Linked DNA regions of Homo sapiens. The protein of the gene in region 2 interacts with the protein of the main gene of each other region in a biochemical or structural test. Each region holds a gene or a part of one and is shown on either strand. Other genes may lie near its edges.

Evidence for each region. Proteins that work in one complex are often made in the same cells at the same time.
Region 1: the proteins of NFIL3 (region 2) and CREB3L3 interact in a test that uses a peptide from one of them, tested with the Homo sapiens proteins (one large-scale study listed by IntAct).

The regions. Positions count from the first base shown.
Region 1 is NC_000019.10:4,160,131-4,163,630, reverse strand, and holds part of CREB3L3 (cyclic AMP-responsive element-binding protein 3-like protein 3), read right to left. Parts: intron 1-3,500. UniProt on the Homo sapiens protein: Transcription factor that may act during endoplasmic reticulum stress by activating unfolded protein response target genes. Activated in response to cAMP stimulation. In vitro, binds to the cAMP response element (CRE) and box-B element.
Region 2 is NC_000009.12:91,408,545-91,411,188, reverse strand, and holds the end of NFIL3 (nuclear factor interleukin-3-regulated protein), read left to right. Parts: intron 1-8; exon of another isoform or gene 9-186; intron 187-282; 5' UTR 283-454; coding exon 455-1,843; 3' UTR 1,844-2,144; downstream 2,145-2,644.

The DNA of each region.
Region 1 (3,500 bases), on a different chromosome or scaffold from region 2:
TGAGGCAGAAGAACCGCTTGAACCCGGGAGGCAGGGGTTGCAGTGATCTGAGATCCAGCCTGGGCGACAGAAATTCTGTCTCAAAACAGCAACAACAAAAACTATCACTCCTGCCACCACAGAATCTCCCTTGGCAGCAGGGCTCGAAATAACCAACACACGGTCCTTTGACCGGGTCATTCTACCTTCAGAAATCAGTCCTACAGATATCCTCACACACGCGCAAAATGGCATATGGACAGGGTTCTTTCTTTCTTTCCTTCCTTCCTTCCTTCCTTCTTTCTTTCTTTCTTTCTTTCTTTTCTTTCTTCTTTCTTTCTTTCTTAGACGAGTCTCGCTCTGTCGCCCAGGCTGGAGTGCAGTGGCGCGATCTCGGCTCACTGCAAGCTCTGCTTCCCGGGTTCACGCCATTCTCCTGCCTCAGCCTCCTGAGTAGCTGGGACTACAGGTGCCCGCCACCACGCCCGGCTAATTTTTTGTTATTTTTAGTAGAGACGGGGTTTCACCGTGTTAGCCAGGAAGGTCTCGATCTCCTGACCTCGTGATCTGCCCGCCTCGGCCTCCCAAAGTGCTGGGATCACAGGCGTGAGCCACCGCGCCCGGCCCTTTTGACAGCTTTCTTCTTTTCATTGTATTATTACTATTATTATTTTTGAAATAGGGTCTTGCTACTTCACCCGGGTTGGAGTGCCGTGGTGCTCTCTTGGCTCACTGCAACCTCCGCCTCCCGGGCTCAAGCGATTCTCCAGCTTCAGCTTCCCGAGTAGCTGGAACCACAGAGCGTACCGCCATGCTTGGCTAATTTTGAATTTTTTGTAGAGATGGGGTTTCACTCTGTTGCCCAGGCTGGTCTCAAACTCCTGGGCTCAAGCAATCTGTCCACTTCAGCCTCCCAAATTCCTGGGATTACAGGCATGAGCCACCACACCCATCTTTTCTTCTTTTAAGATGCAAGATGTCACTGTGTCACCCAGGCTGGAGTGCAGTCGTGTGATCATAGCTAACTGCAGCCTTGACCTCCTGAGCTCAAGTGATCCTCCTGCCTCTGCCTCCTGAGTAGCTGGGACTACAGGTGTGCGCCACCACACTCAGCTAATTTTTTTTTTTTTTTTTTGTAGAGACGAGGTCTTGCTATGTTGCCCAGGCTGGTCTTCAACTGCTGATAACTAGCATTTATAAATGCATCATTTTTTTTTGTATCGTTGTTCTGTATGTCAGCTATACAAAAAAAATGGGAGGTCGAGGCAGGAGGATCACTTGAGCTTAGGAATTTGAGGCAGTTGTGGTGACAGAGGGAAACCTTGACTTTAAATAAAATAAAATAAGGCCAGGCACAGTGGCTCATGCCTGTAATCCCAGCACTTTGGGAGGCTGAGGCGGGTGGATCACCTGATGTCAGGAGATCGAGACCAGCCTGACCAACATGGTGAAACCCCGTCTCTACTAAAAATACAAAAATTAGTCGGGCATGGTGGCAGGCACCTGTAGTCCTAGCTACCTGGGGGCTGAGGTATGAGAATCACTTGAGCCCAGGAGGTGGAGGCTACAGTGAGCCGAGACTGTGGCACTGCACTTAGCCTGGACGACGGACCATGACTCTGTCTCAAAAAATAAACAAATAAAATAAAACAAAATAAGCCAGTTATCATTGCCAAAGCAGTCGTTCATTCTCCTTTCCCTTCCTTCATGGCCTGCTGAAGTACTGCCTCCTCCGGGAAGCCTTCCTGGATCTGCAGTGACCCTGCAGGCTCTCTTTCTTTTCTGTACACCTTAATGAACAGTACATCGCCCCATCCTGACCATCAGATCCTAGAGGCTGAGCACACAGCTGGTGCTCACTGCATATCCCTCTAGTTGCCAGGGGCACCCTGGCCTTCACTAGAGATTATCAGGATAACCTTTGGCATTGGAGAAACAGGATTTCAAAACCCTGAGTCTGCCACTTGCATGCTGTGTGACTTAGGGCTCATGGCTTAACCTCTCTGGGCCTTGACCTACCTTCTCATCTGCAAAATGGGTTTGGGTTGTCAAACCTGGCTTATGGGAGCGTGAAGCCCTTGGCAGGGTAGATGGCCTTCAATTGGTGTGCAATGGGCACCATAAGCTCAATAGACCATCCCAGGGATCAAGCCTGCATCAGCTGTGTAGCATTGGGCAAATGACTGAACCTCTCTGTGCCCTTTTTCTCCTATGTAAAATTAAGATAATAAAAGCCCCAGGCGGGGCGCAGTAGCTCATGCCTATAATCCAGCACTGTGAGAGGACAAAGCAGGAGGATCACTTGAGGCTACGAGTTCAAGACCAGCCTGGGAAACATAGCAAGACCCATATCTACAGAAAAAAATTAAAAGAAAAATCAGCTGGGTCTAAACGGGGCACGGTGGCTCACGCCTGTAATCCCAGCACTTTGGGAGGCCGAGGTGGGCAGATCACGAGGTCAGGAGATCGAGACCATCCTGGCTAACATGATGAAACCCTGTCTCCACTAAAAATACAAAAAAAATCCTGGCTAATACAGTTAAACCCCATCTCTACTAAAAAGATACAAAAAATCAGCCAGGTGTGGTGGCGGGCGCCTGTAGTCCCAGCTACTCGGGAGGCTGAGGCAGGAGAATGGTGTGAACCCGGTAGGCGGAGCTTGCAGTGAGCCGAGATCACGCCACTGCACTCCAGCCTAGGTGACAGAGCAAGACTCCGTCTCAAAAAAAAAAAAAAAAAAGAAAAGAAAAATTAGACAGGTGGCGCGGCATGCTCCTGTAGTCCCAGCTGCTGGGGAGGCTGAGGCAGGAGAATGGTGTGAACCCGGTAGGCGGAGCTTGCAGTGAGCCGAGATCACGCCACTGCACTCCAGCCTAGGTGACAGAGCAAGACGCCATCTCAAAAAAAAAAAGAAAAAAGAAAAACAAAATTAGCCAGGCCTGGTGGTGCATGCCTGTAATCTCAGCTACTTGGGAGGCTGAGGCAGGAGAATCACTTGAACCCGGGAGGCAGAGGTGGCAGTGATCCGAGATTGCACCACTGCACTCCAGCCTGGGCAACAGAGCAAGATTCTGTCTCAGAAAAATAAAATAAAATAAAAAAGACAAGAAAAATTAGCTGGGTGTGGTGGTGCACGCCTGTAGTCCCAGCTACTTGGGAGTCTGAGGCAGGAGGATCGCTTGAGGCCAGGAGTTTGAGGCTGCAGTGAGCTAGGATTGCGCCACTGCACTCCAGCCTGGGCGATAGAGTGAGATCCTGTCTCAAAAAAAACTTTTTTAAGATGATAAATAAAGAGCGCCTGGCATATAGCAGGTGCAGCCTCAGTTTTAGCTTTGTTCTTTTTGTTGTTGTTATTGTTGAGACAGTCCTGGTCTGTTGGCCAGGCTGGAGTGCAGTGGTACAATCACAGCTCACTGCAGCCTTGACCTCCTGGGCTCAAGCGATCCTTCCACCTCAGCCTCCCGAGTAGCTGGGACCACAGGCATGTGCCACCATGCCAGGCTAATTTTTGTATTTTTTGT
Region 2 (2,644 bases):
TTCTCTCTGGGCAGAGGTTATTTTATTTTTCCCTCACTTTCCTGGATCACATATTCTCTTACTGATAGGCCTCATTAGGGATTTGTCCTTTACAGCTTTATAGTTTAGGTATTTGGGAACTTATTTCCTTTTTGAAAATGCTAACTTGTTGAAAGAAAGAACTGTGGCCATGCCTCATCTGTGCTTGTATGCCCTAAATGCTTAGCATATTTCCTTGTACATAATTTGTAATAAACATTTATCCAGTGAATAACTGGTTTTTTTTTTATTCATGTATTGCAGATAACGAAGGAGGCCCAACTTCATTCAATAAGGAGCCTGACGGATTTATCCCAGACGGTAGAACAAAAGGAAGAATATTGATGGATTTTAAACCAGAGTTTTTAAAGAGCTTGAGAATACGGGGAAATTAATTTGTTCTCCTACACACATAGATAGGGTAAGGTTGTTTCTGATGCAGCTGAGAAAAATGCAGACCGTCAAAAAGGAGCAGGCGTCTCTTGATGCCAGTAGCAATGTGGACAAGATGATGGTCCTTAATTCTGCTTTAACGGAAGTGTCAGAAGACTCCACAACAGGTGAGGAGCTGCTTCTCAGTGAAGGAAGTGTGGGGAAGAACAAATCTTCTGCATGTCGGAGGAAACGGGAATTCATTCCTGATGAAAAGAAAGATGCTATGTATTGGGAAAAAAGGCGGAAAAATAATGAAGCTGCCAAAAGATCTCGTGAGAAGCGTCGACTGAATGACCTGGTTTTAGAGAACAAACTAATTGCACTGGGAGAAGAAAACGCCACTTTAAAAGCTGAGCTGCTTTCACTAAAATTAAAGTTTGGTTTAATTAGCTCCACAGCATATGCTCAAGAGATTCAGAAACTCAGTAATTCTACAGCTGTGTACTTTCAAGATTACCAGACTTCCAAATCCAATGTGAGTTCATTTGTGGACGAGCACGAACCCTCGATGGTGTCAAGTAGTTGTATTTCTGTCATTAAACACTCTCCACAAAGCTCGCTGTCCGATGTTTCAGAAGTGTCCTCAGTAGAACACACGCAGGAGAGCTCTGTGCAGGGAAGCTGCAGAAGTCCTGAAAACAAGTTCCAGATTATCAAGCAAGAGCCGATGGAATTAGAGAGCTACACAAGGGAGCCAAGAGATGACCGAGGCTCTTACACAGCGTCCATCTATCAAAACTATATGGGGAATTCTTTCTCTGGGTACTCACACTCTCCCCCACTACTGCAAGTCAACCGATCCTCCAGCAACTCCCCGAGAACGTCGGAAACTGATGATGGTGTGGTAGGAAAGTCATCTGATGGAGAAGACGAGCAACAGGTCCCCAAGGGCCCCATCCATTCTCCAGTTGAACTCAAGCATGTGCATGCAACTGTGGTTAAAGTTCCAGAAGTGAATTCCTCTGCCTTGCCACACAAGCTCCGGATCAAAGCCAAAGCCATGCAGATCAAAGTAGAAGCCTTTGATAATGAATTTGAGGCCACGCAAAAACTTTCCTCACCTATTGACATGACATCTAAAAGACATTTCGAACTCGAAAAGCATAGTGCCCCAAGTATGGTACATTCTTCTCTTACTCCTTTCTCAGTGCAAGTGACTAACATTCAAGATTGGTCTCTCAAATCGGAGCACTGGCATCAAAAAGAACTGAGTGGCAAAACTCAGAATAGTTTCAAAACTGGAGTTGTTGAAATGAAAGACAGTGGCTACAAAGTTTCTGACCCAGAGAACTTGTATTTGAAGCAGGGGATAGCAAACTTATCTGCAGAGGTTGTCTCACTCAAGAGACTTATAGCCACACAACCAATCTCTGCTTCAGACTCTGGGTAAATTACTACTGAGTAAGAGCTGGGCATTTAGAAAGATGTCATTTGCAATAGAGCAGTCCATTTTGTATTATGCTGAATTTTCACTGGACCTGTGATGTCATTTCACTGTGATGTGCACATGTTGTCTGTTTGGTGTCTTTTTGTGCACAGATTATGATGAAGATTAGATTGTGTTATCACTCTGCCTGTGTATAGTCAGATAGTCCATGCGAAGGCTGTATATATTGAACATTATTTTTGTTGTTCTATTATAAAGTGTGTAAGTTACCAGTTTCAATAAAGGATTGGTGACAAACACAGAACTCCTGCTCCATTGCATTTGATTTGATGGAGAAGAAAAGTCAATTTAAGTTATAAAAATAAATATTAAGATATTTTACATTTTATATGAGAGAGTTTTCTCCCCTGAATAAGAGAAAACTGAAGTGCTAAGTTCAGCAAATAATTTGTTTTTCCAGGCTTCTAAAGAAAGAAAAATAACAGTGAATTTTCTTGCATTTGAGACTAATTCACTAAATTACTTTATATTATATATTTTTCTGTAAGATTATGTTTTCTCTATAATTTTCTTAAGTATAAAAATACAAGTTGTTTGGTAACAGCCTCTTCTTAGTTATCTACCCTTTAAGTATGACACATGGATGTGGATAGTTGAGTCACTGATGCATTTTATTAAAGTCTGTTTTAAAAGAGCAGATAAAGACTGAGGATGAGGCATTTTTATGTTATTATAAGTCTTAACAGTTCTAGAGTATAACAATCTAGGGAACTAAGCTAAACACTGTTTAGTTTCTAAAATTTC